2 linked regions of the Homo sapiens genome follow. The protein of the gene in region 1 interacts with the protein of each later gene in a pairwise test. Each region holds a gene or a part of one and is shown in the gene's direction. Other genes may lie near its edges.

Region 1 (3,814 bases):
GGCATAGTCCCAAGGAGGTTCCTGGTGGGGTGGCTAGAAGAGGTGGCCTAAGCCGGGAGGGTTAGGATTGGGTACCAACTTCGAGTCTCAGGCATGAACACAGGTTCTGGAGAAATCCAGGACCCAGCTTCTTGGATAAGGCCTGCTGTCTGCTCAGGTCCACCCCTGGACAGTCGGATCTATAGCTGGGGCCCTTGTGCAGCACCCTCCTCCAAGTGTATGCCTGGATGCTATTGGCTCCCCAATTCATTCACTCTAGTCCAGTCCTGTTCCCAACAGCAAAGGCTTTGAGATCATCCCATTCATTCATTCATTGATTTTTTTCTTTTATTCTGAGCCTGGGTGAGACCTAGTAGGACCACAATATTTGTCTGAAGGGGTTCTGACTTGGTTGCATAAAATGACCCCAGAAGGTACTCCAGTCCAGGCTACATAGATCTGATCCATCTTCCCCAAAATAGACCTGGTTAATCCTCCGTGGGCCCTTCTGCCCCCAGGAGTCTGCCAGGAAGTTATGTCTGGTCATCTGATTTATAATAGGAACCAGCTCCATCCCCTCCTCTAGGGCTGGGGCCAAGGTGGTCAGGCTGTGGGGGCCTTAGGAAAATAAACTCAGTCCAGCCAGGTCCTGGCAGCCCTAACCTGCCCTACCCATCCCTAGACAGGCCAGCTCCATGACCTGGCCCAACTGGCGTGGGTGCAGCTGCCCTCAGCCGGAAAACCACTCCTGAAATAACTCCGTCTGAGGTGAATGCCTCAGGGCAGGGTCTGTGCCCTCTCATGGGCTCCCGCCCTAGCCAGGGAGAGCCCAGGGATGTCCTCAGGGAGGCTGAGGAGGACATGCAGAGCCACGTCCTCTCATGACTGAGGCAACTTTGGCCTAGCTCTCAGTGGTGTGGGAAGGAGAAGCTAAGTTGCACACCCGGAGGCCTGGGTTGGAAGTGCTGGATGGCCCCCAGGAAGCTATGGCTTAAGTCATGGTGCAGACCTCTGCCTTACCCTCCAGTGACTCTCAGTCTAGTCAGAAAGACCCTCAGGACCAGGACTGGTGACATAATTTAGCCAGGGTCCCTTCCAAGCACGGGGGCCTGTGCAGCTGCATGAAGTCAGCCCTGCTTAGGAAAGCCACCTTGGTCATCATAGGGTCCACAGGGGTTTTGTCAAGATGCTGAGCCTCCTGCCAGGGTCTGGTGGGTGAGACACATGTGGGTGGATGGGGGCGGGCCTGAAGGAAGGCGGATGCCATTCCTTGGGTCTCTGAACCCCAGCCCCAGCCAAGCCTGCTCTGTCCTCCCTACAGTCATCACGCTGTGCTGTGTCTTCAACTGTCGTGTGCCACGGACCCGGAAGGAGATCGAAGCCCGGTACCTGCAGCGAAAGGCAGCCAAGATGTACACAGACAAGCTGGAGACTGTGCCACCCCTCAATGAGCTCACAGAAGTCCCAGGAGGTGAGTTGGCCCTGGCTTGAGCCCTGCTGCGCCAGCCAGTTCCTCAGTCCTGCTGCCTGGAGTCACCCTGTTCCTCTGCTCCAACCAAAGCAGGTTCAGGGAGGGGCCCCAGCCCTGCCCCTGGAGACCAGAGCACAGAAATTGGTTGGCATGAGGCAAATAGAACGATGAGCCTATTCTCCAGTAGGAAGAAGGAAGAAAAAGGCAGAGTGTAGGAGGTTCTGGGGCTCTTCCCCTCAGGACAGTCAGACCCCAGGACCTTGTCTCACCACTATCACATGGTCTCTTCCCCCTGCCCCACAGAGGATAAGAAGAAGAAGAAGAAGAAGAAGAAGGACAGTGTGGACACAGTGGCCATCAAAGTAGAGGAGGATGAGAAGAATGAGGCCAAGAAGAAGAAAGGAGAGAAATGAAGACATCCTGGGCAGCTTGGGCTGGCGGGCCCTGGAGCTCAAGCCGTGGCCGGGGTCCAGGCATGTTGGACTCTGAGCTCATTTGGGGACCACAGAGGCTGTGGTCAGAGAGGGAAGCTGAGGCCCATGGCCACATCCTCATGGCCCATCAGGGGCAGGAACCAGACAATCTCGTAGGTGTCCTGCCCCCCAGCCTAGGCTTGGCTCCTTTCACCCCATCCACATGGGTACTGTCTCGGCAGAGGTGGTCTGGTGCCACCGTCCCTCTGCAGATACACTGCTCTCCCCACCCAGACCTGCCTGTCTCCCACCCTTTCTGCCAGGGATGGCAGTGGCTGTGAAGGAGTAATGGGATATGGGGTTACTTCAGCCACCCTTTCTGGCACGAAATGGCTGAAGTGCATGGGTCAGGGTGTGAGGCCACACCCAGAGTAGCCATGAGGAGGCAGAGAGGGTCACTGGGGGACACTGTGGCAGCAGGAGGGACTCTGTCTGGCCAGGGAGGAGCCCCAGTGGTGAGAAGACTTCCCCAAGCCTGGCAGGGGATCCAGCTCAAGGGAGTAAGTAGAGGTGGCTTCAGAAATGGAACCCCCAGCCCAGCAGACATCAAGCTCAAGGCAATGGGCTACCCTCATTTCACACGTTGTGATGAAGCTGAGGCTGCTGCCAGGCCCGGCATGAGGCCCCGAGGCTCGAGCTCGGGGCTGGGGGCTGCAGGGCTGGGTCAGGGGTACACAGAGCTAAGGCCAATGGGCTAGAGGGTGCCGGAAAGAGAGCTGGAGTCTGGGCTCCTCTTGGGAATCAGAGTATATTTAAGAAGCCAAGGGGGACCTCGGGCTGTTCTGGTGGCCCCTTCTATGCCCAGCTGTGCTGGGAGGTCCCAGGGCCCTAGAAGATCACAGCAGGGCCTTCTGCCTGCTGACCATAACAGTGCCAGCTTCTTTGCAGCTTCCTCTTCTACCATTTCCCACTACGGGCACCTAAAAGAAGCATCTCTGACCAGAAGACAAAGGCCCAAATAGCACCTGGGGGAGGGAAGATGCACAGAGGCACTTCCAGATGGCATCGAACAGACTAAGGCTCTGAAACCTAGGCCTGAACACTAAGGTCTCGAGACACCAGAGGTTTCTGAGCCAGGAGAGCCTGCTGGAAAAGCAGCCTGCAGAGATTTGTGAATAAAGCTGATTGCCTTCTCAGAGCCAGGCCTAGAAAATGGCCTCCTGAGATGACCCCTCAGGATGCGCTATTCCTGGGGCATTTATGTGGAGGGTGATGCAGCAGTCAGTGACAGATGGCTCAGGCCAGGCCAAAGTCCCCTCCCTGACTCTTCTGCCAGCCTGAATTAGGATGAGATAGAGGGAGAAATGGGAGCCAAGAGGCTGAGGGGCAGCTGCAGTCACCTGGGCCCATCCCGGAGGCAGGCACAGGACTCGGGAGGGACGCTGCCAGCTCTCTGGGTGCTGAGTTCACAAGGCTGCATTCATGATTTTCAATAGACCTGTGATGGTCTGTGCCCAGTGCTGGGGACACAGAAGAGTCAAACCTGGCTCCTGACCTGGACCTGGATCATCACTGTACAGGGAGGAGAGTGATCCAGGCTGATGAGGAAAGCGCATGACATGGGGTCTTAGGAGCAGTGAGGGGCAGAGCCATGGCCAAAGGCCCCGCCATGGAAGCTGAGGACTCTGACACCAGATGGAGGCAGTTGACCGACCTCTGCCCTTGGGGTCCAACCCATGGGCTTCTCATACATAGGGGTGAAAAAGGCCATTCTATTTATGCAGAATTTTCCCATGTGGCCAGGCAGCAGAAGTCCAGAGGGGTAGGGGCCACTCAGGGTCACACAGAGCAGCAGTTGCTGAAGACTGGGGAAGTCCAGGCCTAGGCTCCACCTGCCCTTCCCCTGACATGGGGCCACCACTAGCCTTTTATGGGCAGGCCTGGCTGCTGG
Region 2 (3,816 bases), about 100 Mb from region 1:
GCATGCCAGATGGGTATGTTCTATTGACTTCAAGGATTCCTCATGCTGTGGGAAGGAACCTCTCCAGAAGAGAGACAGAGCAGAACCCTCTAAATGTGGGGCACAAAGCAGGAGCCCCTCTTGCTGGATTCAAAGGGTCATACTGGAAGAGTGTAGGTTGAGTCTTATTCTCACATCACTCATATCACTTACACACTTCTTTTATAGCCTTAGCAGCCATGCCACAAAGAGAAACTCTTCATGCATATCTTTTGGTCCATAAGTCATAAATAGTTATCCTTGATCCCATGTCTTTTTTAGAGCCATGGACAGAGAGAAGCAAAAATATACCAAGTTCACACTGAGTTGTCTCCCTTCATATCTCTTAGCAGTCACTGAAAGGTTATGAGACTCAGGCTGGGTTTCTATCCTCTGTCCCTGAAACGACAACGTTGACCTCGTGATCAACCCTAGAATCCAGAGCAAGATCTCAGACTGTCCTCTCTACTACCAGACAGCACACTTTGTTTTGGGGGCTGTGTGCTTGAAATATTAGCTATGGCAAAAGGCTTTGAGTCTTATGACACCCCAAGTAACTTTTACTTTAGGAATTTGAAATACAGCCTTGCTGTAATGCTGTCTCCTTAACAAAGCAGTACCTTTGAAATATTTAACAACTTGAAAAGGAAACCGAGCTTGAATTTTCCTTTCAGGTGCTCAGGAAATAATGTTTCACTTCTGTCTGAAATTCACCATCTCCTCAGACAAAGAAGGCTCTTATGGTAAAAGGAATGGCATTTTCTCCACAATTTTCGAATAAAAGATAAAGAGAAAACAGCACTGCAGCCTTTTTGTTAGGATCTAACAATAAAGAAATAATACGGTTTTGCCAGGGGAGAGCTCTGGTTTTAAGCTCAGAATACAAAAATAGGCTGACAAAATTTTACAAAGGAATATTCTCAGCTACCACTCTGAGGATGGTAGAAAGTGAAATTTCAAGAAAATTATATTATTTGATTATTTGATGATGATTAAGCTGATTGGCCAGTCCTATGTGAAATTCTAAAGTAGAAGAAATGTGATGTTGTCTTTTCTGCTCACCTCTCCCCTCATTCCTACCCCCAAATCTCTGCCTCTACCCCAAACCCAGCCTGACCTTTGGGAAAGGAATGGGGGCTGTCACTTGCACCGTAGCTCCTCCTGCCTGCAGTACTCTCCCCCCACAGTCCAGCCTCCCTCTGCTCAGCTAACTTTTCCTATAGCTCCTTCTGGCTACTTCTAAGGAACCTTCCATAATGCTGCCCACCCTCTCAGTAACAGCCCCTCTACTATCCCTTGATTACATGCACTGTAATTGGTTAGTAATTGATTTTATGTCCTCTGCCAAATTATACTCCATGAGAGCAAAAATCATGAGTATTATCTTTAATGTTTAAATCTCCACAACTATCCCCCATATAAGTCTAGAGAATAAATGAATGAGTGAATTAATGAATAGAAACTCAAGCCATTATGTTGCCACTCCTAGGATATTTGGATTAACTTTAACTGAAGAGTAAAAAGCATTTACCTGTCCTAAAGGAGACATAAAATTAGTGGGAGAGTATTTGGAGAAAAAAAAGACACTGTAATACATTCTTTTGTGTTGCCTACCCTGATGTAGTCAGGTGTCCCTGATATGGGGTGGGCTGAGGATTTGAAATAAAATACCTAATTTGACATTGTAAGTGGAGGAATCAGGATTTGAAACCAAATTGGTTTGACCTAAATCAAGCTATTATGATAAGGACTTGCAAGAAAAAAGGAATCCATAAAAACCATATGAATAGCTACCAATTAGTAAGCATTTATATGTGTCAATTACAAAGCCAAATGCAAATCATGCTTTATTTATATTAGCCACCTTTTATAGATGAAGAAATTGAGACCTGAATATTAAAATTGCCTACTTTTACATAGTAAGTAAAGGAATCAGGGTTTGAACCCAAATTGGTTTCACCTAAGGTAGAAAACCATCCCAGCAAGTCTCCTATTAACTGGAACCCTATTGTGGTGGCCTGAGATATAACAGTAGCTGTGGAAGCGCTGTAGAGTCCTGGCCATCCTATGTGCTCCTGATCTGGTCCCTCCTGCCACCTGCTTCTGCTCCCTGTGCCATCCACCCATCTGGAAGTCTCCCAGTGTCCATCTTCGGGGGAGACACTCACCAGAGTTTCCAGCTTCCAGCCAGTATGGAGTGCCCCTGTCCCACAGCAATCTCACCGAAATCACAGCTACATCTGTTAAAATTAGGCTACCAATGAGTGATAGATGAGGGGGAAAAATAATAATAGTGTACTAAACAAAACAAATGTTTATTTTTCTCACACATAAAAATCTAGAGGTTGAAGTCCAGGGCTGGTCCAGAGGCTCCAAGGATCTGGGATTTAGACTCCCTCTTTCTTGTTTTTCCACAGCATATGGCTTCCATTTCTGGGGCCACATTGGTCCAAAATGTATGCTGGGGCTCCAGCCATTGCATCCATATTTCAGCCACAGGAAGGAGGAAGTGGGGAAGAAAGGACAGGCCCCTAATACCTGTATAGTTCAAGAAGACTATCCCGCCCATACTTCCCAACCACCCTTAGTTGAACAATGCTGTCTTAATTCAAGACACTCACATGTCTAGCCAAAAATCTGAATTCTGTTACAAACAAGGAGAATAGAGATGTGCGCCACCTCAATACCTCATCCATAGCTACCTTTTCCTTTGTGCAGCTGTGGCCAAGTGAAAGCTGAAGGAGCTGTGGTAACCCTTCTGAAGGGAGGCTGGGGCCTTTCACAAGAGGCTGCATGATTGACATTTATCCTGCATGGCCTGTGAAGTACAGAGAAATATTTTCTCTTGAAGCCACATCATAGCAGTGGCTGCTTTGTAGCCTGATTCCACCATTATGCCTTTAAAGTGCCTAGCAATTCAGCCTTCACATCATGCAAAGAGGAATATCTCCCAGTCTTTGTAAGATCAGCTTAATTCTAACCACCTCCTTACCTCCCACTGCACTCCTACACGCACACACAAATCTTCTTCACTCAGAGCAGAACCATAACCCAAGCCCTACCACCTAGAGACTGAAGAATCAGGCTCATGATTACAAATATGCAATAATTTTTTGTGTGGATAATGTCAATGGGGATGATGGTAAGAGAATTCCTTGGTTTACACATTGACCCTCTTCCCTGTCCCTTACAATCAGGAAATATTTGTCCCAACACCTTGTTTCTTCTGTTGCAGGCTCCTGTGGCTGTCTTGTCATGATATTGTTTGCCTCTGAAGTGAAAATCCATCACCTCTCAGAAAAAATTGCAAATTATAAAGAAGGGACTTATGTCTACAAAACGCAAAGTGAAAAATATACCACCTCATTCTGGGTCATTTTCTTTTGCTTTTTTGTTCATTTTCTGAATGGGCTCCTAATACGACTTGCTGGATTTCAGTTCCCTTTTGCAAAATCTAAAGACGCAGAAACAACTAATGTAGCTGCAGATCTAATGTACTGAAAGGCAAACCTTTCTATAATTTTACAAGGGAGTAGACTTGCTTTGGTCACTTTTAGATGTGGTTAATTTTGCATATCCTTTTAGTCTGCATATATTAAAGCATCAGGACCCTTCGTGACAATGTTTACAAATTACGTACTAAGGATACAGGCTGGAAAGTAAGGGAAGCAGAAGGAAGGCTTTGAAAAGTTGTTTTATCTGGTGGGAAATTGCTTGACCCAGGTAGTCAAAGGCAGTTGACTAGAATCGACAAATTGTTACTCCATATATATATATGTGTGTGTGTGTGTGTGTGTG

Evidence for each region.
Region 2: the proteins of TMIE (region 1) and CLRN1 interact in a two-hybrid assay, tested with the Homo sapiens proteins (one large-scale study listed by BioGRID).

Annotation. Positions count from the first base shown.
Region 1 is NC_000003.12:46,707,826-46,711,639, forward strand, and holds the end of TMIE (transmembrane inner ear expressed protein isoform 1 precursor), read left to right. Parts: intron 1-1,300; coding exon 1,301-1,450; intron 1,451-1,753; coding exon 1,754-1,863; 3' UTR 1,864-3,061; downstream 3,062-3,814. UniProt on the Homo sapiens protein: Auxiliary subunit of the mechanotransducer (MET) non-specific cation channel complex located at the tips of stereocilia of cochlear hair cells and that mediates sensory transduction in the auditory system.
Region 2 is NC_000003.12:150,927,639-150,931,454, reverse strand, and holds part of CLRN1 (clarin-1), read left to right. Parts: intron 1-3,253; coding exon 3,254-3,519; 3' UTR 3,520-3,816. UniProt on the Homo sapiens protein: May have a role in the excitatory ribbon synapse junctions between hair cells and cochlear ganglion cells and presumably also in analogous synapses within the retina.